Homo sapiens: one gene and its partners. The protein of the gene in region 1 purifies or fractionates together with the protein of each later gene. This does not show direct contact. Each region holds a gene or a part of one and is shown in the gene's direction. Other genes may lie near its edges. The genes, in order: TPD52L2, TRIM25, CTH, TARS1, PPM1G, GABPA and INPPL1.

The links.
Region 2: the proteins of TPD52L2 (region 1) and TRIM25 fractionate together in Homo sapiens (co-fractionation; one large-scale study listed by BioGRID). This does not show direct contact.
Region 3: the proteins of TPD52L2 (region 1) and CTH fractionate together in Homo sapiens (co-fractionation; one large-scale study listed by BioGRID). This does not show direct contact.
Region 4: the proteins of TPD52L2 (region 1) and TARS1 fractionate together in Homo sapiens (co-fractionation; one large-scale study listed by BioGRID). This does not show direct contact.
Region 5: the proteins of TPD52L2 (region 1) and PPM1G fractionate together in Homo sapiens (co-fractionation; one large-scale study listed by BioGRID). This does not show direct contact.
Region 6: the proteins of TPD52L2 (region 1) and GABPA purify together in Homo sapiens (affinity purification with mass spectrometry; 2 studies listed by BioGRID and IntAct, with this or other methods). This does not show direct contact.
Region 7: the proteins of TPD52L2 (region 1) and INPPL1 purify together in Homo sapiens (affinity purification with mass spectrometry; 2 studies listed by BioGRID and IntAct, with this or other methods). This does not show direct contact.

What each region holds. Positions count from the first base shown.
Region 1 is NC_000020.11:63,878,770-63,882,269, forward strand, and holds part of TPD52L2 (tumor protein D54), read left to right. Parts: intron 1-3,500.
Region 2 is NC_000017.11:56,904,050-56,907,549, reverse strand, and holds part of TRIM25 (E3 ubiquitin/ISG15 ligase TRIM25), read left to right. Parts: intron 1-3,061; coding exon 3,062-3,295; intron 3,296-3,500.
Region 3 is NC_000001.11:70,428,268-70,431,767, forward strand, and holds part of CTH (cystathionine gamma-lyase), read left to right. Parts: intron 1-1,526; coding exon 1,527-1,584; intron 1,585-2,049; coding exon 2,050-2,127; intron 2,128-3,500. UniProt on the Homo sapiens protein: Catalyzes the last step in the trans-sulfuration pathway from L-methionine to L-cysteine in a pyridoxal-5'-phosphate (PLP)-dependent manner, which consists on cleaving the L,L-cystathionine molecule into L-cysteine, ammonia and 2-oxobutanoate.
Region 4 is NC_000005.10:33,450,965-33,454,464, forward strand, and holds part of TARS1 (threonine--tRNA ligase 1, cytoplasmic), read left to right. Parts: intron 1-1,376; coding exon of another isoform or gene 1,377-1,475; intron 1,476-2,324; coding exon 2,325-2,448; intron 2,449-3,500. UniProt on the Homo sapiens protein: Catalyzes the attachment of threonine to tRNA(Thr) in a two-step reaction: threonine is first activated by ATP to form Thr-AMP and then transferred to the acceptor end of tRNA(Thr).
Region 5 is NC_000002.12:27,389,092-27,392,591, reverse strand, and holds part of PPM1G (protein phosphatase 1G), read left to right. Parts: intron 1-3,500.
Region 6 is NC_000021.9:25,765,972-25,769,465, forward strand, and holds part of GABPA (GA-binding protein alpha chain), read left to right. Parts: intron 1-3,032; coding exon 3,033-3,261; 3' UTR 3,262-3,494.
Region 7 is NC_000011.10:72,231,267-72,234,766, forward strand, and holds part of INPPL1 (phosphatidylinositol 3,4,5-trisphosphate 5-phosphatase 2), read left to right. Parts: intron 1-231; coding exon 232-349; intron 350-973; coding exon 974-1,070; intron 1,071-1,359; coding exon 1,360-1,498; intron 1,499-1,608; coding exon 1,609-1,708; intron 1,709-1,808; coding exon 1,809-1,897; intron 1,898-2,174; coding exon 2,175-2,256; intron 2,257-2,388; coding exon 2,389-2,478; intron 2,479-3,014; coding exon 3,015-3,128; intron 3,129-3,260; coding exon 3,261-3,349; intron 3,350-3,500. UniProt on the Homo sapiens protein: Phosphatidylinositol (PtdIns) phosphatase that specifically hydrolyzes the 5-phosphate of phosphatidylinositol-3,4,5-trisphosphate (PtdIns(3,4,5)P3) to produce PtdIns(3,4)P2, thereby negatively regulating the PI3K (phosphoinositide 3-kinase) pathways.

The sequences.
Region 1 (3,500 bases):
TCCAGGGCTCTCTTCCTAGAAGGTCTTAGGAACTCCCAAATGGGTGCTGGCTGGGGTTGCCCGGCCCGGTGCTCTCAAGGAGAGCTGAAGCTAGTTATTGGGTGCAGATGCTGGCTCTGACCCCTGCCCCTTCCTCCCGGGCTCAGCTTCCCCATCTGTCATGGAGTAATAACAACCCAGCCTTCTGGTCCACTGAGGAATGTGTGTGCCTGTGTGTTTGACGCTCTCAGAACAGGCCTGCAGCGCTGTGAGCCTTGGAAGGGGGCCTCACAGCTGCTGCCGCCACCTTGGAGGCCCAGGATGGGACTGAGAAGGGGAAGGGAGAGGTCAGAGCCACAGCTGTTGGGCAGGGACCTGCTGTAGGAAGAGAAGGCCAGGGAGGCGCTGGTGGTGGCCTCAGGCTATGCAGGTGATGCCCATTGTTTCCAGGGCCATCCCAGTTTGGAGGTTCCTGTTTCTAGAGGAGGTTCCCTTGTGACCCCCTCATTTCCACACCCGAGCAATGCTGAGGGCTGTGGGGCCCCCAGGGGCTTGAGTGTGGTTTATGGCACAGCAGGGACTGATCACAGTGGCACCGGGTGTCAGTGGCCAGTGGTCAGTGGCCAGGAACCCTCAGGACCCTCCTCCTTGTGTGGGTGGCATTTACCCACCCACAGGTCACGCTCAGGACCCGCATCTCATTCCGATCCTCCTTGTGTGGGTGGTACTTACCCACCCACAGGTCACGCTCAGGACCCCACATCTCATTCTGAAGGCCGGGCACAGGCGGTTGTTTTCTCTCCAACTTCGGTTTCCCCATCCCCACTCTTAGGGCACAAATGCAGGTGTAGCTTCCCCATGCCCACTCTTTAGGCACAAATGCAGGTGTAGCTTCCCCATCCCCACTCTTAGGGCACAAATGCAGGTGCAGCTTCCCCATCCCCACTCTTAGGGCACAAATGCAGGTGCAGCTTCCCCATCCCCACTCTTTAGGCACAAATGCAGGTGCAGCTTTCCCATCCCCACTCTTAGGGCACAAATGCAGGTGCAGCTTTCCCATCCCCACTCTTAGGGCACAAATGCAGGTGCAGCTTCCCCATCCCCACTCTTAGGGCACAAATGCAGGTGCAGCTTCCCCATCCCCACTCTTAGGGCACAAATGCAGGTGCAGCTTCCCCATCCCCACTCTTTAGGCACAAATGCAGGTGCAGCTTCCCCATCCCCACTCTTTAGGCACAAATGCAGGTGCAGCTTCCCCATCCCCACTCTTAGGGCACAAATGCAGGTGCAGCTTCCCCATCCCCACTCTTTAGGCACAAATGCAGGTGCAGCTTCCCCATCCCCACTCTTTAGGCACAAATGCAGGTGCAGCTTTCCCATCCCCACTCTTAGGGCACAAATGCAGGTGCAGCTTCCCCATCCCCACTCTTTAGGCACAAATGCAGGTGCAGCTTCCCCATCCCCACTCTTAGGGCACAAATGCAGGTGCAGCTTCCCCATCCCCACTCTTAGGGCACAAATGCAGGTGCAGCTTCCCCATCCCCACTCTTTAGGCACAAATGCAGGTGCAGCTTCCCCATCCCCACTCTTAGGGCACAAATGCAGGTGCAGCTTCCCCATCCCCACTCTTTAGGCACAAATGCAGGTGCAGCTTCCCCATCCCCACTCTTAGGGCACAAATGCAGGTGCAGCTTCCCCATCCCCACTCTTTAGGCACAAATGCAGGTGCTGTGAGCGCTTTAGAATCCTCTGCTGCAGGTGACTTTGCTTCAGCGAACCACAGAATGTTCACATGGTTTTATGCATTTGTTATTTCAGGGAAAATCAAGGTTAAAGATGTCTTCAGAATTTGTATTTTTGGGCTGGGCACGGTGGCTCACACCTGTAATCCCAACACTTTTGGAGGCTGAGGCAGGCGGATCACGAGGTCAGGAGATCGAGACCATCCTGGCTAACACGGTGAAACTCCGTCTGTACCAAAAATACAAAAAAATTAGCCGGATGTGGTGGCGGGCGCCTGTAGTCCCAGCTACTCGGGAGGCTGAGGCAGGAGAATGGCGTGCACCCGTGAGGCAGAGCTTGCAGTGAGCCGAGATGGTGCTGCTGCACTCCAGCCTGGGCTACAGAGCAAGACTCTGTCTCAAAAAAAAAAAAAAAAGAATTTGTGTTTTTGAAACTAAATATAGCAGGTCATTAGTTACTTATAACTGGTGTTTTATTAATAAAAGAAGAAAAAATTTAAAAACAGCCATGATTCCAGCTGCACGGAGCCTGGATGGGAAAGTGCATCCTCTGGGCTGAGCACGGTGGCTCACACCTGTCATCCGAGCGGGCTGGGCGCAGTGGCTCACACCTGTCATCCCAGCACTGCGGGAGGCCGAGGCGGGTGGATCACCTGAGGTCAGGAGTTCAAGACCAGCCTGGCCAACATGGTGAAACGCTATCTGTACTAAAAAGACAAATTTAGCAGGGCGTGGTGGTGGGTGCCTGTAATCCCAGCTACTTGGGACGCTGAGGCAGGAGAATCTCTTGAACCCGGAGGCGGAGGTTGTAGTGAGCTGAAATTGCACCACTGCCCCCCAGCCTGAGTGACAGAGCGAGACTTTGTCTCAAAAAAAAAAAAAAGAAAGAAAGTGCATCCTCTGGTAGGCCTTGGGCCGGGGGCGGGCATGAGAGAGCTGCGCTGGGATGCGCTGCCAGGGCACACTTGGTGGGTCACACACTCTTGTCAACTGTTTGGGGGCTGGAGAGTAGTAGCACTCAGCTCACACGGGCCTTCTGCAGGGAGTGGTGGGAGGGCCTGTGAGTAAGGGCTCCGGAAGGCCCATCATTGGGACCTGGTGCCGCCAGTGGGAGCAGGAGGAGCCTGTGCCTTCTCTGGCGCCAGTCATCCCAGATGCCACTCAGGGCTTGGCTGGGTTTGCCAGCTCTCCAGGTTGGCACTGGTAACGCCAAGATGGTCCTGGGAGCCCATCTCCATTCAGCCTCGAGTTCCCTGGCTTCACTGAGGGAGGAGCCGTGATAAGGTGGCTGTGGGTTCGCATTTTGGACTTTGTTATGTCAGAGTCTGCTGTGTTTTGTGTTTATGGTGGCAGCTGGATGAGGGCCAGCGACTTCAGGTGTTGACTGTCATGGTGGGCCCAACAGTATCCCTGCAGCCACAGCATCCTGCCTGCTGCCCTTTGCCTGTCCTGCAGACGCCAAGGCCCTAGAGCTTTGCTTTGATGGGATGTACCCATGTGGGTGGACACTGGAGGGAGCTGGAGGGGATAGAAGCGGGGCCTTCACTAGGGGCCAGGACAGACCCTTGCACTGTGAAAAGAGGCCTGGGAATGGAACTGTCCGATGTTCTGAAGGCACACGGGGCCCCGCCGTCTGGAGCAGGGGCACCTTGCGGGCTGCATGGCCACTCTGTGACGCTCGTTCCCCACAGACGTGGTTGAGCTTGCATTTTCTCCCCTCAGCACAGTCTCATTTGGGAAGAGGAAAGGGAAACTTGCACGCATGGGCCGGTCAGGGCA
Region 2 (3,500 bases), on another chromosome or scaffold:
CAGATTTTTACCCTTTTTCAGAGCTGCAGCACCAGTTTTATTGCAGCAGTTATGGTTTCATTAGATGAGATCTAGGTTAGAATACCAGCTCTGTCACATACTAGTTTATGTTGCTTTGGTCATGTTGACAGATCTTTGAACCTTCGTTTCCCAATTTGCACAATGGAATCACAAGTTCTTTCTGAAGATGACTGTGAGACAAATGAAAGAATGCACGTGAAAGTACCTGTATTTGTTAGAGGGCAGGCTATACTGCTGTAACAAAGATACACCAGAATTCAGAGGCTTAAATATGATTGAAGTTTATTTTACCAACTGACAGTCCAAACCCACACATGAGTAACCCAGACTAAGGGTTCATGTGATCATTCAGGGATTAAGGGTTCTCCCTTCTTATTACCCTACTATTCCACAAGGTATTGTCCCAGCCTCTTTGGTTGAAGCTGGGTTACCATTACATCTTTGTTCTAGCCTGTGACAAAGGGACAAAAAGGAGGTGGAGGACAACAAGCAATTTTCCTTTACACAAGTGACACAGTGTTGCACATATCACTCCTGGGCATGGGTCACTGGAAGGAGTTTTGTCACATCGCCTAGTCTAGCTGCAGGGGAGGCTGGGAAATGTAGTCTGAGTAGCCACACGCCCAGATGAAACTCCAGGGATGTTCTCTTACCAAAAGGAAAAAAGGGAAAATGAACACTGGGGGACACTTGTAGTCACATTAGAAGTTGCACAGTGAAAGATTGGCAAAGAAGGCTGGGCGCAATGGCTCACGCCTGTAATCCCAGCACTTTGGGAGGCCGAGACGCATGGATCACCTGAGGTCAGCAGTTCAAGACCAGCCTGGCCAACATGGCGAAACCCCATCTCTACTAAAAATACAAAAAATTAGCCGGGCGTGGTGGTGCATGCCTATAGTTCCAGCTACTCAGGAGGCTGAGGTAGGATAATTACTTGAACCCGGGAGGCAGAGGTTGCAGTGAGCCGAGGTCATGTCATTGCACTTCAGCCTGGGTGACAAGAGTGAAACTTCATCTCAAAAAAAAAAAATATTGGCGAAGAAATACTTGAATTCCTCTTTTCCAGTCTACTGTCCTTCTTGTGTGTTTTTCTCTTTGTTATGTTTGATTCTGAGCTATTGTCTTAGTCTGTTTTCTGCTGCTATAACGGAATACCACAGACTGGGTATTTGCAAAGAAGAGAAGTTTATTTGGCTCAAAGTTCTGGAGCCTGAGAGGTCCAAGAGCATGCTTCCAGCATCTGGTGAGGATCATCCATAGCGGAAGGATGGAAGGCAGGAGAGCGGGACAGGAAGAAGGAGGTCAAACCCTGTGATAAGAATATGAATCCATTCATGAGGGCAGAGCCCTCGTGATCTAATCACCTCAGTGGCAATTAAATCTCAGCATGAGCTTTGGAGGAGACATTCAAACCATAGCAGCTATTGAGGCTACCCAAGATGTGAAACAAAATTGCAGCTACTAAAGCAGTGCTGTCCAGCAGAAATACAGTAGGAGTGCAGATGTCATTTTAAGTTAATTTGAATAGTACATGAGATTTATTGTATTTTATTTATCTATCTTTTTTAGGACAGGTCTCACTCTATCACCCAGGCTGGAGTGCAGTGGAACAATCATAGCTCACTGCAGCTTTGAACTCCTGGGCTCAAGTAATCTTCCTGACTGAGCCTACTCCCCTTCACCACCCCCACTCTCCAGGAATACAGTCCATCTAATTTTTTTATTTTTATTTTTGTAGAGAAACAGTCTGTCTATGTTGCCCAGGCTGGTCTTGAACTCCTGGCCTCAAGCGATCCTCCTGCCTCGGTCTCCCAAGGTGCTGGGATTATGAGCATGAATCACTGCACTTGACTGAGATTAATTTTAATATTATAGTTTATTTAATTTGGTATATCTTAAATATTATTCTTTCAACATATCATCAATTTAAAAGTTTTAAGATATTTTACATTCCTTTTTTTGGTGTGAAACCCTTGAAAGCCAGTATGTATTTTACACTCATGGCAAGTCTCAGTTTGGACTAACCACATTTCAAGTGCTCAGTAGCCACATGTAGCAAGTGGCTATGTTATTGGAAAGTACAATCCTAGAGCATGATATTCTCTAGAAATTTTCCAGAGCTGCATCCTGACTTTTTGTTTTGTTTTATTTTATTTTATTTTTTTGAGATAGCGTCTCGCTGTGTCTCCCAGGCTGGAGTGCAGTGGCACGATCTCGGCTCACTGTAACCTCTGCCTCCTGGGTTCAAGCGATTCTCCTCCCTCAGCCTCCTGAGTAGCTGGGACTACAGGTGCGCGCTGCCACAACCAGCTAATTTTTGTATTTTTAGTAGAGATGGGGTTTCACCATGTTGGCCAGAATGGTCTTGATCTCTTGCTGACTTTTATTTTTAAAAATTGCCCATGAACCACCTTTAGCTTAAGAAATAAAATATCATCGATGCAGCCCCTCCCATCTGTTTCTCCCTTATTCTATCCCTCTTCCTCTCTTCCAGAAGTAACCACTCTCCTGAATTTATTTATTCATTCCCATGCGTTTCTTTGTGCATATAGCCATTCTGTTTGTTTCTAAGCTTTATTGAAAGAGCATCATATGGTGGATCTTCTTCTGCAAGTTGTTTTTCTCTCATGGAGATTTATCCAGGCATAGCTCCAGTTTATTAATTTTCATAACTGTTTAATATTCCATCCTATGAATAGCTCCCAGTCTTTGCTTCAAGTCTTCTTCTGATGGATGTTCAGGTTGATTCCAGGTTTTTGCTACTTCAGACAATGCTGCCTGTGAACATTCTTATGCATGTCTCAGGGGCAGGTGGCTGCAATTTTTTGTAGCACATATTCCTAGGACTGGAGTTGCCGAGTCATAGCCTATGAGCACCTCCAAATTTATTAGATATTGCCAAGTTGCTCCCCACAGTGGTTTGTTCTCCCACAAAGTACAGGTAAGAGTTCCTGGAACTCCACATCTCACCCATGCTTGGGGCTGCAGCCTTAGCACTTTTGCCCCTTTGACGGGCATCCTCTTACCTTGGCCCTCTCAGATGACTGCAAACAGAAAGGTGGAGCAGCTACAACAAGAATACACGGAAATGAAGGCTCTCTTGGACGCCTCAGAGACCACCTCGACAAGGAAGATAAAGGAAGAGGAGAAGAGGGTCAACAGCAAGTTTGACACCATTTATCAGATTCTCCTCAAGAAGAAGAGTGAGATCCAGACCTTGAAGGAGGAGATTGAACAGAGCCTGACCAAGAGGGATGAGTTCGAGTTTCTGGAGGTAGGTCGCCACAAGGCATTGTTGAATGTTTTTTTTTTTTTTTTGCCTGATGTCATGCTGTTGATGATAGGGCCCTCAAGGAGCGGGAGACTGGAAGAGGTCACTGGAAGCATCCCTGAGACACACGCTGTATTAGTTTTCTGAGCTGGGCAACAACTTACCACAAATGTAGGGGCTTCAAAAAACACATATTTATTCTCTCAGA
Region 3 (3,500 bases), on another chromosome or scaffold:
GGGTACAAAGTTACAATTAGAAGGAGGAATAGAGGAATAAGTTTTGGTGTTCTACTGCACAAAAGGATGATCATAGTTACAATAAGATACTGTATATATCAAAATAGGAGAGAGGATTTTAAATGTTTCTACTACAAAGAAATGATAAATATTTGAGATGATGGGCATGCTAATTACCCTGCTTTTGATCATTACACAATTACACATGTATTGAGCATCACATTATACTCCATGACTTAAAGGATTAATTTACAGGAAAATTGGGTGAAAGAAAACACTTTTAAAAATTCCTTTTCATTTTTATTTTTCTTAATTCTCCCAGTTTCAGACATATTTATTTATTTATTTATTTATTTATTTGAGACAGAATCTTGCTCTGTCACCCAGGCTGGAGTGCAGTGGTGTCATGAAAAGCTCACTGCAACCTCTGCCTCCTGGGTTCAAGTGATTCTCCTGCCTCAGCCTCCTGAGTAGCTGGGATTACAGGTGCGTGCCACCATGCTCAGCTAATTTTTTTGTATTTTTAGTAGAGATAGGGTTTCACCATGTTGGCCAGGCTGGGCTCAAACTCATGGCCTCAAGTGATCCACCCACCTCAGCCTCCCAAAGTATTGGGATTACAGGTATGAGCCCCCGCACCCAGCAAATTTCTTTCTTTCTTGTTGTTTTTTAAGATAAAGTCTTGCTCTGTCACTCAGGCTGAAGTGCAGCGGCTTGATCATGGTCCACTGCAGCCTGAAACTCCTGATCTCAAGTGATCCTTCTGCCTCAGCCCCCTAAATTGCTGGGATTACAGGAGTGAGCCATTCTCCAACTCCCAGCCGTCTAGATTTCTTGTAATACCTAATACAATGTACATGCTTTATAAATGGTTGTTACACTATATTGTTTAGGAACTAATGACAAGAAAAAAGTCTGTACATGTTCAATACAGACACAACTGTTCATCTATTTTTCCAAGTATTTTTTTACCCATGGTTGGTTGAATCCATGGATGTGAAACCCACACATAGGAAGGGCTGAGTAATTAGGAATCAAGATCATGACAAACCCCAAATGTAAATAATCACAGCATACGTCATGAGGTTTTAATGATTAAAAATCTAAGCAGATGAGTTTATACTTACTCTACATAAAAATTGCTGAATGTTCATTTCAACTATTTTATGTGTTTAATGAGTCATAAAATACTAGAGTCTCTACTGTAGGTAATAAATTTAGAGTCCTGTCAGCAATTGCTATAAAGAAACAGGTTCAAGAGACCAGTTGACCTGGGCTTATCTGCGCTTTCCAAGAAACTTTTGCCTTCAGATTCAATACTGGATTCAATACTTTACATTTTTCTTTGGTGGGAGGGAGGCAAAGGAGAAATAATATCAGAGATCCTGGAAAATTTTAAGATGCACATACTTTTGCAAAGTTAGTATTGATTAGAATAAGAATGGAATTTATAATTGCAAATAGGCAGGTAATGAAGCATATTTTCAAATTGTTTCTCATTTAAAGTAAAAAACTTGTTCTTTCAGCGCCCTTTGGCTCTGGGAGCTGATATTTCTATGTATTCTGCAACAAAATACATGAATGGTAAGATGCATACTTTGAATGTTCTTTTTCATGGATAGGTGAAAATTGCATAGGGCTTGGCTTTTGATCCCTTTTCTTTGATTATTTTGTAGATTATTTCCTGTGACTCATAGAGAGAGTAAAAAAAAAAATCCTTTGATTAAATGTAGGATTTCATTAACAGTACACAAAACTATGCTCATGATTTATGAGAAGAGGATTAAAGTTGGCCATAAAAAGTTATGCTTTTATCTTGCTGACACCTTAAAGAAACATTTTGTTTTTATATAATTTTTATTTTCTTGTTTTAGACATAGCTTTTGCTACTGTCCAGTTGAATAAAGGTTACTTAAACTTATTTTATAGAGCTTTTTCCCTGAGAGTTTTTTCAAGTGAAAATCACATTTTGAAAATTATAAAATAAAGAGTAAACATAAATTGTTTCTAACTGAAATTTTTGTTTGTTTGTTTGTTTTTTGTTTTTAGGCCACAGTGATGTTGTAATGGGCCTGGTGTCTGTTAATTGTGAAAGCCTTCATAATAGACTTCGTTTCTTGCAAAACTGTAAGTATTAAAAAGTGCAGGTTCCCTATGACACTCTCAGTGACTACATTTGATATTTGTATTTCCACTAAGTGATGTGAAGTGATGGCATTCTAATAATTTATGAAGAAATGAAAAATAGAGGAGAAAAATTCTGATTTTTTTTATTTATTAATTTTTTTTTTTGAGATGGAGTTTCACTCTGTTGCCCAGGCGGGAGTGAAGTGGCGTGATCTCAGCTCACTGCAACCTCCACCTCCTGGGTTCAAGCGATTCTCCTGCCTCAGCCTCCTGAGTAGCTGGGATTACAGGTGCCCACCACCATGCCCAGCTAATTTTTTATATTTTTAGTAGAGACGGGGTTTCACCGTGTTGACCAGGCTGGTCTCAAACTCCTGACCTCAGGTGATCCACCTGCCTTGGCCTCCCAAAGTGTTGGGATTACAGGCATGAGCCACCGTGCCTGGCCAAAAAAATTTTTTCTGATTTTAGAGGAAAGTGTTATAAAAATAGTTATTGCAGGCTGGGCACGGTGGCTCATGCCTGTAATCCCAGCACATTGGGAGGCTGAGGCAGGTGGATCACTTGAGCTTAGGAGTTTGAGATCGGCCTGAGCAACATGGCAAAACCCTGTCTTTACCAAAAATACAAACCAATTAGCCAGGTGCAGTGGCATGTGCCTGTGGTCCCAGATACTCAGAGGCTGAGGCAGGAGGATTACCTGAGCCTGGGAGGCGAAGGTTGCAGTGAGCTGACATCGTGCCACTGCAATCCAGCCTGGGCAACAGAGTGAGATCCTGTCTCAAAAAACAAAAAACAAAAACGGTTATAGCATAGCAAGGCTTTATGATATGATATAAGAAATGAGTTTTTTTATTTTCATGTCCATCTTAATTATAATCATAATTTGATAAAGCCCTAGTGAATTTTTAGTTTCAAGACTTAATGGTTTTTTTTTCTTTTTTAAAATTACATTTGAAATGAGGGCTTTCATATACTATACCTTTTATATCACGAATGATGGTTAATTTTAAATAGCACTTACAGTATAAACTTACATTTTTCAATAGATGTCTAAACACCATTTCCTATTTACATTGCTTAGTTTATCTCCAGTATAGTTAAAGATTAAGCCATTGTAACTTGACAGGTAAAATATAAACATGATTAGGAATAAAAATGTCCTCCACAAGGGAAACTGAAACTTATTGCTTGATAAGTGTCCTTTGGTTTATAAAAAGTAGAAATGAAGTATATATCCTGGAGGCATGTGAAATCATTGACCGCTTTGCACAAAGGCTAAATAGAATATTAGTAGAATATTCAGTAATAATAGGACTTGAACTGCTGTTTTTCTCTGTATGTTAAAATAATTTTTCAAAGAAATACAAGGT
Region 4 (3,500 bases), on another chromosome or scaffold:
ATTAGCCAGTCATGGTGGCGCACACCTGTAGTCCCAACTACTTGGAGGCTGAGGTGGGAGGATAGCTTGAACTCGGGAGGTGGAGGTTGCAGTGAGCCAAGATTGAGCCACTGCACTCCAGCCTTGGTGACAGAGCGAGAGTCCGTCTCCAGGGAAAAAAATAAAAGGTTGAATTACATAAAACATTGATGGGCTTTAGCTCTGGAGTTAAGTCACTGATCTGCACTGAGAATACTTTATGAAATTTTTACAAAAGTCCAGAATAACTTTTTGTTCTGTGAAAAATTATAACATTGATAACAGGCTATTTAAAGATTCACATAATTAGTGGTGAATATGAAAGGGAAGGACAAAAAAGACATGTTCCATTTGCGTCAAAAGGTTTTTCTTTGAAGTTTTGTTATAAATCTTTTTTTTTTTTTTTTGAGACGGAGGAGTCTCGCTCTGTCGCCCAGGCTGGAGTGCATTGGCGCCATCTTGGCTCACTGCAAGCTCCGCTTCCTGGGTTGACGCCATTCTCCTGCCTCGGCCTCCTGAGTAGCTGGGATTACAGGCGCCCGCCACCACGCCTGCCTAATTTTTGTATTTTTAGTAGAGACGGGGTTTCACTGTGTTAGCCAGGATGGTCTTGATCTCCTGACCTCGTGATCCACCCGCCTCGGCCTCCCAAAGTGCTGGGATTACAGGCGTGAGCCACTGCGCCTGGCCGTTTTGTTACAAATCTTAAAGATTATTTTACCCTTCTTTGAAAAATTGAAATGATCCAGTATGGCCCATGTGTAATCTACATTTTCAGAGTAACTCTATTCTTAGAATCTTGGGGCTCCATATTGGATCATAAGATAAAAGTCATGTTCTTCCCAAAGAATATAGAGAATATGATTATCCTTTTTATCAGTTCTTTAATCTCCTGAAAACTGTTTTACACCAATATGATGAAATACATTTCTCTCTGCCAAATTCATGTTATGTTTTGTGAAATGCATGTATTTATTTTATTGACTCCATCTGATCTCAGGAGGAAAGAAAACATTGTTTATAACCTATGGTAAAGTTAGTAGGAGCATTGAAAATAGAAAGGAGTTTGTTGTTTACTTTCTGTTTGGTTCTTTTCTCTTGATCCTCAGATAGGAGTTGTATACATTTTGTTGTAAACCCTTAGACATAGAGAGCCACCAACACAGCAAGCCTGGCTAGCTTAAAGCCTTCTAGTGGTAGGTTTCTTTGAGATTTACAGTGTAAAGGGTGTATACTTTTTCTTCACAGTGTAGAATGTTGCCTACCTTCGTTGAGATGTCCAGGCTGTTATAGACTATTATTTCTCTAGCTGTGCATTTAGATGTATAATCTGGCTCACCTACTCAACTCTGCTCTAGTCACACAGCTTCCTGCAAAAACCTCTCTTCACTTGCATCTCTGCTTGCATCTGTGGCCATTCCCTCATCTGGAATGCCATGGCCTCCTCTTTTCTTCCTGTGAGTGCTTTATCCTCAAAGCCTTTCCAGATGACTCTGACCTGTACTGCTTTCCCTCCTCAGAACTCCTGTAGCTTTTACACTCTGTGTGCTCTGATATTTCATCACTTGATGATACTTTATGTTCGATGTTGTATATTGGGTGTGTAATGTTTTTACTCACATTATATGGAAAGTTTTATTAAATAGTCTTTCATTTTACCTCTATATTTGTTATAAATATTATCATAGGCATTTGCAGAATTTATTCTGAGGTTAGCATTGTCTGTCAAAGAAAGGATCTGGTGTACATTTTAAGCAGGAAGAGGAACAGAGAAGTTATTTAGTAGGCCTTTTTTTTTTCCTTTGGAGTCTACATAGCTTAGCTTTGTAGAAAGAGAAAGGTGGGTGTATTAAGAGAAAACTCGGTGTGGTGACTTGTGCCAGTTGTCCCAGCTACTCTAGAGGCTGATGTTGGAGGATTGCTTCAGGCCAGGAGGCCAGCCTGCGCAACATAGCAAGACCCTGTCGCTAAAAAATTAAAAAAAAAAAAACTTATTTGTTGGAGAAATTAAGATTATTCAAACCATTGGAAATTGATAGTGCTTATTTATCAGAGTTGCCATATCTGCTTAAACAGGAGGCATTCAATGTCAAATGATAATGTTCTGCATTTTCAGGATCTTCCAGTTAGGTTCTTAGGTACATTTTTGGAATTTGTTGTTTTTATCATTATATTTCAGAAAAATAGAGATACATCAATATAAAAAAACAATATATAATAAAAATAGTGTTTATTTTCCTGTTTTCAAATTAGATTCGTGTGTACTTATATATGTGTGGACTTTTTTTTTTTTTTTTTTTTTTAAGTCAAGGCCTGGCCGACAACACCGTTATTGCTAAAGTAAATAATGTTGTGTGGGACCTGGACCGCCCTCTGGAAGAAGATTGTACCTTGGAGCTTCTCAAGTTTGAGGATGAGGAAGCTCAGGCAGTAAGTTGCTGATTAGTATTCATTGAATTTTAGGATGCAGATTCACATTTGAAGTCTTTTCCAGCTCAGTCCTGCTGCGATTGGGTGGCTAACATTTATTGTTGTCTCACTGTCATATTTGAAATCTTCATTTTGTCCTTCATTTAGGGAACATAATAAAAGTGCTTGCCTTAGAAAATAAAGGGGTGAAGCTGAATAAGTCTTTTCATTACTAGACACTTCAATAGGGAAAATGTTTTGGGAATTGTATTAAACATTGATTAAGCAAGTAAAAATTGTTTTCTAAACTGTGAACACTATTTTATTTTAATTTTTTTTTTTTTTAATGATGGAGTCTTGCTTTGTCACTCAGACTGTAGTGCAGTGGTGCGCTCTTGCCTCAGTACAACCTCCACCTCCCAGGTTCAAGCTATTCTCCTGCCTCAGCCTCCCAAGTAGCTGGGATTATAGGAGCGCACTACCACACTTGGCTAATTTTTGTATTTTTAGTAGAGATGGGGTTTCACCATGTTGGCCAGGCTGGTCTTGAACTCCTGACCTCAAGTGATCTGCCCACCTCGGCCCCCCAAAGTGCTGGGATTATAGGTGTGAGCCACTGTGCCTGGCCTCTAAGCTATGAACACTCTAGCAAGATATGTACATTTGACAAATAAATTTGAACCTTACTTCAAAGCACTGCCTTTATTGGATAATTTCTGTATTTTTTTCTCATCTTAAGATGCAAATCTGCTGGATAACACTATAAAAGTCAACCTGCATGTGATGACAAGATTTTCTTTTTAATTCTCCATGGCTGTGTATCATATAAGGGGAGACAAAGTATTTTGTTTTAGTGATGATTGTTCACTTATGTATGTGGATTAGTGGTTTTCAAATGTATTTTGGAGCCCTCAAGTTTCTTACGAGAATTTTTTAATGTCACTTTGGTACCTTAATACTAAATCTTGAAAACATTGCTTTGGGTGTATTCTGACTCATCCCAGTGATTACTTTAAAACCAAGTACTGCCATTTGATTTCAGTGTACAGATGTTTGTCCTCGTGTTTTGTCAT
Region 5 (3,500 bases), on another chromosome or scaffold:
GCTGGCGTAGTGGCTCATGCCTAAATCTCAGCACTTTGGGAGGCTGAGGCGGGAGGATCACCTGAGGTCGGGAGTTTGAGACCAGCCTGGGCAACATGGTGAAACCCCGTGTCTACTAAAAATATAAAAACTAGCCAGTCATGGTGGCACACACCTGTAATCCCGGCTACTTGGGAGGCTGAGGCATGAGAATCACTTGAACCTGGGCTGCGGAGGTTGTAGTAAGCTGAGATCATGCCACTGTACTCCAGCCTGGGTGACAGGGAGACATTCTCTCTCTCAAAAAAAAAAAAAAAAAAAAAAAACAAAACAAACCAACAAAACAAAGTAATCCAGGAACAACAACATGATGAAGGACTGCATGCAGGACTCAGTGATGGATGGTGGAAGACAGCCAGGAAGTTAAGCATGACTCTGGTATTAAGTGTTGTCTGGGAGAGTTAAGATTCCATTTACAGAAATAAGACCTGTAGGGGAAGCTCTTGATTTTTTTTTTTTTGCAGACTGCTGATTTCCTGATTACATGTGTTAAGTTTGAGGTATAGAGAGAAAGAACATCCTGGCCGGGTGCAGTGGCTCACACCCGTAATCCCAGCACTTTGGGAGGCCAAGGTGGGCAGATCACGAGGTCCAGGAGATCGAGACCATCCTGGCCAACATGGTGAAACCCCGTCTCTACTAAAAATACAAAAATTAGCTGGGCGTGGCGGCGCGTGCCTGTTATCCCAGCTACTCAGGAGGCTGAGGCAGGAGAATTGCTTGAACCCGAGAGGCAGAGGTTGTGATGAGCCGAGATCGCGCCACTGCACTCCACCCTGGCAACAGAGCTAGACTCTGTCTCAAAAAAAAAAAAAAGAAAGAAAAAAAGAACATCCTGTAGAAACAGGCAGTCAGAGGTATAGAACTACACAGAATCCAAGAGATCTTTCAAGAAAAGTGACATGCAGCAAGAGAAACTATCAAGGGGGTAAACAACCTATAGAATGGGAGAAAATATTCACAAAGTATACATCCAACAAAAGTCTAATATCCAAAATCTATAAGGAACCTAACAAGCAAAAAGCAAATAACCCCCTTAAAAAGTGGGCAAAGGACATGAACAGATACTTCTCAAAAGACGTACATGTGGCCCACAAACATGAAAAAACGCCCATTTCTAATCATCAGACAAATGCAAATTAGAACCACAAAGAGATACCATCTCACACCAGTCAGAACAGCTTTTGTTAAAATGTCAAAAAATGAGAAACGTTGGTGAGGCTGCAGAGGAAAGCAGACACTTGTACACTGTTGGTGAAGGTGTAAATTAATTTAGCGTAGGCACAGTCAGTTTGGAGATTTCTCAGAGAACTAAGAGTGGAACTACCATTAGACCCAGCAATCTGATGGCTGGATATACGGCCAAAGGAAAATAAATCATTCTGCCAAAAGAACATATGTACCTGTATGTTCATTGTGGCACCATTCACAATAGCAAAAACATTGAATCAACTCATGTGCCCATCAGTGGCGGACTAGAAAAGAAAAGAAAATATGGTACATAGCCATCATGGAATACTATGCACCCATTAAAAATAATGAAATAATGTCTTTGCAACAACATGAATGTAGCTGGAGGGCATTATCCTAAGCAAACTAACACAGAAACAGAAAACCAAATACTGCGTGTTCTCACGCAGTGAGAGTGGGAGCTGAACATCAAGTACACATGGATGTAAAGATGGCAACAATAGACATGGGTCTACTAGAGGTGGTGGTGCGGCAGGGTGGGGGTGGGGGTTGTGTGGCAGAGGAACAGCTGAAAAACTACCTATTTGATACTATACCCAGCACCTGGGAAACGGGTTCAGTCATACCCCAAACCTCAGCATCACACAGTATACCTTTCTAACAAACTTACACATGTATTCTGTGATTCTAAAATAAACATTGAAAAATAAAAAAAAAACTGACATGGTTTGTACTGTTTAATCTGACATAATGGCTAGGGGAAATGAAGTCTGCAGAATGGCTGTTTACGGATGTTGTTGTTGTTGTTGAGATGAGGTCTCACTATGTTGCCCAGGCTTGAACTCCTGGCCTCAAGCAGTCCTCCTGCCTTGACCTCCCAAAATGTTGAGATTACATGCATGAGCCATTGCCAAAACGGCTATTTGGATTGCTGTTAAGGTTATTACATTCTCTGTGTAGTAAGACCTTGAAGGAGAAGGATTTGAGATCAGGAGTTTAAGAAAAAATGTTAATCTAGGAAGAGAGGATAATTTCTGTGTTTGGCCAGTTGCAATGGCTCACGCCTGTAATCCCAGCGTTTTGGGAGGCCGAGCTGGGCAGATCACTTGAGCTCAGGAGTTTGAGAAGAGCCTGGGCAACATGGTGAAGCCCCGTCTCTACTGAAAATACAAAAATTGGCTGGGCGTGGTGGCAGGTGCCCACTGTAATTTCAGCCACTCAGGAGACTGAGGCAGGAGAATTGCTTGAACCTGGAAAGTGGAGGATATGGTGAGCCTAGATCGCGCCACTCTACTCCAGCCTGGGAGACTCCATCTCAAAAAAAAAAGAAAACAAGATGCTGAAATGAAGTAATTACCACAGTCAATGTGATCCTATAACTTTGTTTTGTTTTAGAGATGGGGTCTCCCTCTGTCACCCAGGCTGGAGTGCAGTGGTGCATCATAGCTTTCTGCAGCCTCCACCTCCTGGGCTCAGGTGGTCCTCTTGCCTCAGTGTTCCGAGTAGTTAGGACTGACTGCAGGTGCATGCTGCTATGCCTGGCTAACTTTAAAATTTTTTTGTAGAGGCGGGGTCTTGCTATGTTGCCTAGGCTGGTCTCCAACTCCTGATCTCAATCAGTCCTCCTGCCTACCTTCCCAGAGCGCTGGGATTACAGGTGTGAGCCATCGCACCTAGCCAATCTCATAACATTTTATGACTAGCAAACTTAGTAGTTCTGATTCAGGCATAAATCAGTTGGTGGGGTTATACAAGGTTGGGTGAGTTTTTCTAGATTTCTAAGAGACCATGTTGAAATACTTGGCTCTGTCTCAGTAAGGGATAGAGAGAAGCAAAGGTGTGGGTAAAGGTTATGAGCAGACATGTAAAGGGGGCAAATTAAAGTGTTTAGGGAAGGTGAAACAGTTCCAAATCATAATATAGATCCCAAGCCTCACCAAGAAGTGAAGGAGAGGGTAATTGTGCGATAGTTCTCAGGACTGAGACCTCAAGGTGTAAGACGAATCTTTATTGTGGGTGGTCCTCTTTGAGAAAAAGAACAAAAAAGAAAAATGTGAAATGGGTGCTAAATTTCAGAGCAGAATATACATATATGTGTATGTGTGTGTGTATATATATATATATTTTTATGTAGCAAATTCCAGTTTACAAAGGGCTTTTATGTGTTTTGCATCATTACAACAGTTCTGTGATGATGTGGATGTGGTGGATATTGTAATTCCACATCACAGAGGATAAAATTGAGGCACACCATAAGGTAGCTGACCAGA
Region 6 (3,494 bases), on another chromosome or scaffold:
AGTCAGGACACCTGAAGATTAGCAAAGTGGAAAGACTTGTCCCACAGGATATTGAGACTGACTCTAAAGTTACAGTAATAAGACAGTTATGCTATTTTCTCAAGACAAATAGGCCATACAGTAGAATAGGGAGCCAAAATAGAACCAGGAATATGTAAGCATTTGATTTAAAGAAATGGCAGTGGGGAGAAAACATATGAGGAAACGACCTGCTTTTCAATAATCAGTGCTGGGATAATTTACTCTCCATCTCTGGGGAAAAGTAAAAGTTGACCTCTTGCTTATGCCGTACCAAAAATCAATTCCATGTAGCTTGTAGCTCTACATGTAAAAAGTAAAATAGAAAAGGATCTAGAAATACTTTCATAACTTCTGGTGGTAGGGAGACATTTAAACAGAATCAAAAGGACTAATTCTAAAGGGAAAGATCAATAAACTGGACTATATTTAAATTAGGAATTTCTGTTCGTTGAAAGCCTTATTAAGAGAGCCACACATGTCGGACAGAAGTATCTAGAATATCTAACCAATTCTTACAAATCAATTTTTTAATGGGCAAGAGACTTGAATAGACACCTCAGGCTAGAGATTATCCAAATGGCCAATGAATATATGCAAAGGTGTACGGCCTCATTAGTATTCAGAGTAATGCAATTGAAAACCATAATTAAATGGTACAACTCACCCCCTAGAGTGGCTACAATTTAAAAGATTGCCAGAACTAAGCTCTGTTGAGGATATGGAGCAATGGGAATGCTTCTACCCTTTTGATAGGAATGTAAATTGTAACAGTTGCTCCCCTAAGCAACTGTTTCATACACATCAAACAGAGATGTACTTCTATGCCCATACACATGTTCATAGCAGATTATTTATAACATCCAAACCCCAGAAACAACCAGATATCTATCAACAGTAGAGTGAATGAATCATTTATGGTATATTCATACAAGAATACCTTGCATTCTTGAAAACTAAGCTCCTGCTACAAACAATGACCAGTGAACCTCACAAACATAATGTTCAGTGACAGAATCCAGACCCAAAAGACCAAATTCTGTATGATTACATTTATTTAGTAAAGTTCAAAAAACAGGAAAATTAAATTTCAGTATTTAGGGATGCATGTTTGGGTGATAAAAATATAAAGAAAAAGCAGTCAAATTACTATCATGATACAGGCTTGTGTTTACCTTTTAGAGCCAGGATTTGGGGAGTGATTGGGAGGGGACATAAAGGGGATTCTAGATGCTGGCAGTGTTCTGTTTCTTGACCTGAGTGATACTTAACAGGTGAGTGAATGTTCACTTTGTAATAAATCACTGAACTGTTCACTTCTGTGTCCTTTTGTTTGTGTGATATATTTGCAATTAAAAAGTTTAAAAAAATACAAGTTTAAAAAAAAAGAGGGAAGAAAAGAAATCATATCCATGAAATACAGGTATTGTGTATCTTTCATTTTAGGGAGGCAACAAGTGGAATAAATGCTACTATATACAGTTGTGTGATGCATCTACTAGATCAAAAGAAGTATTCAGTAAAATTCAAATTTATGTGTGTATATTCTTTTTTATCACCTCTTACCAAGAAATATGATTATGCCAACTCCATTTTCCTCCTAGAATTATAAAACCTCTTTCCTTTTCCATTTTCCTTTTTTTCCCCACGTATAGTCTTACATATTAATGTAGAAATTTTTTAAAGCAATTGATATGCCTATAGCATTTTTAACTGGATGGCAAGGAATTGTTGGTTTATGAGCTGAAATCCAAATTCTGTACTAATGTAATTGACATAAATGGAAACTACAAGACTGCCCAATGTGTTATATCTCTTACTGGGAAATCAAACATAACTATTTTTCTTTTGCTATTCTGGAATTAGGGAAAGATGACAATTTCCTGTATATAGGTCAGTCCTTTCATTAATAGACTCTTGATTAAGCCAAGTGACTTTTATCCTGCTAAATGTGATAGTTTATATCTGGTACTTTTGCAAATAGTTGTTTCTTTTATAATAGCCCTTTGTCAGTGGGCAGTGCAATTTTAAAATAAGGGCTTTGCAATCTGCCAGTCGTGGAAAGAGCTTGACTTGCCTCTTTTTCCTGTTGTTGGAATTAGCAATACATAGTGTGTGTTTAAATAAAGTCTGTTTTCCAAAGGAAACATAAATCCAGCTCCATTTGCATCTCTATAGAATGCAGCAGTAAACTAGATTTCTAGAATGATTGCCGGAACTCTGCTTGTGTACGTTTAGAAACATTGTCTCTTTGCAATGTCCTTTACCTGTTTTTCTGTATCCTCTGTTTCTTTTAGACCTTTTCCTTAGACTTAAAGCTCCCTATTGGGCTTGGATAATTTATCTGAAATTTGGAAAGCGTTTACATAGTGAAATAATAAAGATGAAGACATGACTTCATCATATAGGATTCTTTACAAGACAGAAAAGAAGTGGAATATATGTATTAATTTTTTTTATATTATCGATTTTTATTAACATAGCTTATATTTTGTAGAGGGCTGTGTGCCAGTCATTGTATACTAAGCACTTTACAAAGATTATCCCTTTAATCCTCAACAATGATATGAGGGTATAAGCACTGTTAACCTCACTTTATAGATGAGGAATAAAAGCTTTGAGAAAATATGACTCCTGTGGTCTCAAAAATGTTAGGTTTTGAATCTTGGCTTTCTGACTCCAAAGCTCTTGTTCTTAGGCTCTTCTACTGCTCTCAAGGTTTTTTGTTTTGTTTAATAATTATTTTTAAATCAATGTTTTATTCTAATTGTTGAAAATATGTTTTGAAAGTTTAATGTATAGAGTTTTGGAGTAGTGAGCATTGAAATTTTAGTAAATAATGTTGGGATGTTTCATTTGATAGTAGCATTAAATATTCTACATAGCTTCAATATTAATTGCTATTGTGGCGGATGCAGTACTCTACTAGGCTTCTGCTTATGGAATAGTCTGTAAATTATTGTAAGAAGTCTCATTTTTTCTGAAGTCTCTAATTTTTTTTTCTCTTTTTGAAGATATTATTACGATGGGGACATGATTTGTAAAGTTCAAGGCAAGAGATTTGTGTACAAGTTTGTCTGTGACTTGAAGACTCTTATTGGATACAGTGCAGCGGAGTTGAACCGTTTGGTCACAGAATGTGAACAGAAGAAACTTGCAAAGATGCAGCTCCATGGAATTGCCCAGCCAGTCACAGCAGTAGCTCTGGCTACTGCTTCTCTGCAAACGGAAAAGGATAATTGAGCCCCAGGACATTCTGAGACTCCAAAGTCTTTCTTAAAATGTTTAGAGCAAGTATAGCTCTTACCTTTATTACTGAATTTGAATCTTCTTTTATTTCTAGGCTGTACAGTCTGATGCATGATTTTTTTATAAATATTTCATACTCTTGTGAATTTGGATCTTTTTACTTTGAGCATATATTTTAGAATATGTGTATGTTAAAGGATCTCCACAATGTCTGCAGTGTGAAGGCA
Region 7 (3,500 bases), on another chromosome or scaffold:
CCCTGGGAGCACAGCTTCACTGGCTTTTTCTCTGGTCCCTGAGCATATCCTTTGGGAGATCTGACCTGAGTCCTTCATGCCACGAGAGGAACCATTTCTCTCCAGTCCGTCAGGAAGAGGGGTGGCAAGCCTTCCTACCCTGTGATGGACACAAAAGTCTATTTATAGTGCAGGGGGAAATGCAGGCAGTGGGTGCAGCAGGGCAGTGGTGACCATGCACTCTCTACCCAGATTGCCATGCAATCACTGTGGAATATCAAGGTGGCAGTGCTGGTCAAGCCAGAGCACGAGAACCGTATCAGCCATGTCAGTACGTCCAGTGTGAAGACTGGCATCGCCAACACCCTGGGTAAGTGGGGCTGGCAGGTGCCCAAGAGTGGCAGCGTCTCTCTGTCCATGGCTTCTGCTTCCTCTCAAGCCTAGGATTGCCCCATTTTTGGTGATCTTAGTTTCCCCATATATAGGGTACTTTGAACTTTGAAAAACATATTCATATTCTAAATCTCTCCCAGCACCACTGGGAAGGCAAGGCCAGGATAATTACCCCCTTTTCACAGATGATAAAACTCAAACCCAGAGTGGTTGAGTGACCTGCCCAAGGTCACACAGCAAGTAAGTGGTGGAGCCAGGCATTGTGCCCAGGTCTCCTGATTTTCGGTCTGGTGCTCTCCCAGGTAGATTCTGCGCAGAATCTGCAGGGCCTTTCAGCTTCACCCTTGGGGTCCCCTGTGATCTCCAGGGGCTCTGCTCACACATACAGACAGACTCAGGCCATCCACACAGACCATGTGTGCCCAATGAGGACCCCCCCCTCCCCCAGGGAAGGTGTGGGTGTGTGCAGGGGCCTGCCCATGTCACAGCGTCTGGTGGGCTCAGCGGGAGGATCCTCTCACTGCAGCTTTGAGAGGCAGAAGGGAGAGTTGGGAGCCCTCTGAGGATGACCCAGGCCTTCCTCTCTTGCTTGCCTTAACAGGGAACAAGGGGGCTGTGGGCGTCTCCTTCATGTTTAATGGCACCTCATTTGGCTTTGTGAATTGTCACCTCACCTCGGGAAATGAGAAGACGGCTCGGTGAGGGGGCGCCTTTCCCATGGTCTCTTTACACCCATCCCATTCACCTGAGGCCTGTTCCCGCTCCCATACCCTAGCCCATGACCCTCCCGCAGGCCTGTCTCCAGAGACCCCCTGCTCTCTTATCCCAATTCAAGACCCTTCTGTTCCTGACCCTAACCTTGTCCCCAGGGGCCCGGATCTTTACCCCATCCCTGACTCCTGAGACTTCTTCCCTTTATGCCTATCCCTGACTTCTGGCCCTGACCCTGGGGATCTACCCCTCCCCACCACGCACCCCTCACCCTAGGAGGAACCAAAACTACTTGGACATCCTGCGGCTGCTCTCGCTGGGCGACCGGCAGCTCAATGCCTTTGACATCTCTCTGCGTTTCACACACCTCTTCTGGTTTGGGGACCTCAACTACCGCCTGGACATGGATATCCAGGTGCGAGCAGGGCCCTGCCATGGCTGTAGGGAGGCTAAGGGCCACATGGGCTATCACCCCTGGCTCTGGCTCCGGAGGAATGTTTCTAGCCTTTGTGTCCTCCACCCCAGGAGATCCTGAACTACATCAGCAGGAAAGAGTTTGAGCCCCTCCTCAGGGTGGACCAGCTCAACCTGGAGCGGGAGAAGCACAAGGTCTTCCTTCGATTCAGTGAGTGTGGGCCTGGTAGGTGGTGATCTGAGGGCTAGGAGACTTGCAGTATCCCTGGGTGTCAGGGCCCTGAACCCCACCTGTCTCCTGCTTTCCTTAGGTGAGGAGGAGATCTCCTTCCCACCCACCTACCGCTATGAGCGGGGTTCCCGGGACACATATGCCTGGCACAAGCAGAAGCCAACTGGGGTGAGCCAAGAAAACGGCATGGGCCTTGGGGGACCGCAGGCCTGCGATGAATCAAGAATTTGGGTCAAGGGTATGGGCCTCTGCAGCTTCCACTCCAGCCTCCATGGCCCCTCTGAGGCCTTTGGGTGATCCTGGGTATTTTGAGGATCCAAGAAGGGAGGTGGGTGCTAGGGCCTCTAGTAATAGAAGTGTGGGGACTCATCAGCTCTGGAGTGGGGTCCATGCCAAGCAGCCTCCTAGCTGTCAGCTCTAACCATGCTGCCATCCCCTGCCCCAGGTCCGGACCAATGTGCCCTCATGGTGTGACCGGATTCTGTGGAAATCCTACCCTGAAACTCACATCATCTGCAATTCTTATGGTCAGAGCCTCCCGGACAGAGTGATGGGAGATCTGGGGTGGTCACCATCTGGACTCTGCCCTAACCTTGGGAGGTGGGAGCCGAGGGTGGGAATATTCCCCCTGAGTCCCCATTCCTATCCCCTCTCCCCAGGTTGCACTGATGACATCGTCACCAGCGACCATTCCCCCGTGTTTGGGACATTTGAGGTTGGAGTTACCTCCCAGTTCATCTCCAAGAAAGGTGACTGTTCCAGATATGCTTGTGGGTGTGGCATAATCTAGGTGGGCACAGGTGGTGGCCTCGGGATGTACATAGGTTTGACTATGTAAGTGTGTGTGTGGGTGTGTGTACCAGTGAGTGCAGGAGTGTTTCTCAAGGTGTGATGTGTCAGGGTGTCTGTGCGCCTGGGCCATCACAAGAGTTGTGTGCCCATGAGTGTGTGTGCATACGTGAGTGTACACCTATCTATGTGTCTGTGTCTGTCTAGGGCCACGTGTGTGTCCCTGAGTATGCCTGTAGGTGTGGGAATCCTGCAGGCATTCTGGTCCCCAGCACCCTCTTCAATGGGTTTTTTATCCTTGGGTTGTCTCTTTGCTCTGGTCCAGGGTCTGGCCTCTGGAGATTCCCTGTTGGTGGCTTGGGACTGGGGAGGCCCCTCCTGGCCCTGCCTCCTTGCTCTGGACCCCTGATTTCCTGTCCCAGGGCCCTGTTTCTCTGTCCCATTCCTCCTGTGATCCTCTCAGTCCTCCTGTTTGTTCTCCTCCCTTTCTCCTCAGGGCTCTCAAAGACTTCAGACCAGGCCTACATTGAGTTTGAGAGCATCGAGGCCATTGTGAAGACAGCCAGCCGCACCAAGTTCTTCATCGAGTTCTACTCTACCTGCCTGGAGGGTCAGAGGCGTGGCAGGGGCTGGGTGTGGGCCAAGGAGGATGGGAGGCAAGAGGGTGCAGTCAGCCCCCTACTTAGGGGGAAAGGAAGCTGAGAGGTGGTGCTCAGTTGGGTGTCTCCCACCCCCACCCCAGAATACAAGAAGAGCTTTGAGAATGATGCCCAGAGCAGTGACAACATCAACTTCCTCAAAGTGCAGTGGTCTTCACGCCAGCTGCCCACGGTGAGGCTGTGGGCAGGGCCCCTGCTTATGGGTGAGGGCACAGAGAGGGGTACATAAGAGTTTATTGGAGAGCCTGCCTGGGAGGGAGTGTGGGGCCAGCAGAGAGAGAGAGAGAGAGTGTGTGTGTGTGTGTGTGTGTGTGTGTGTGTAT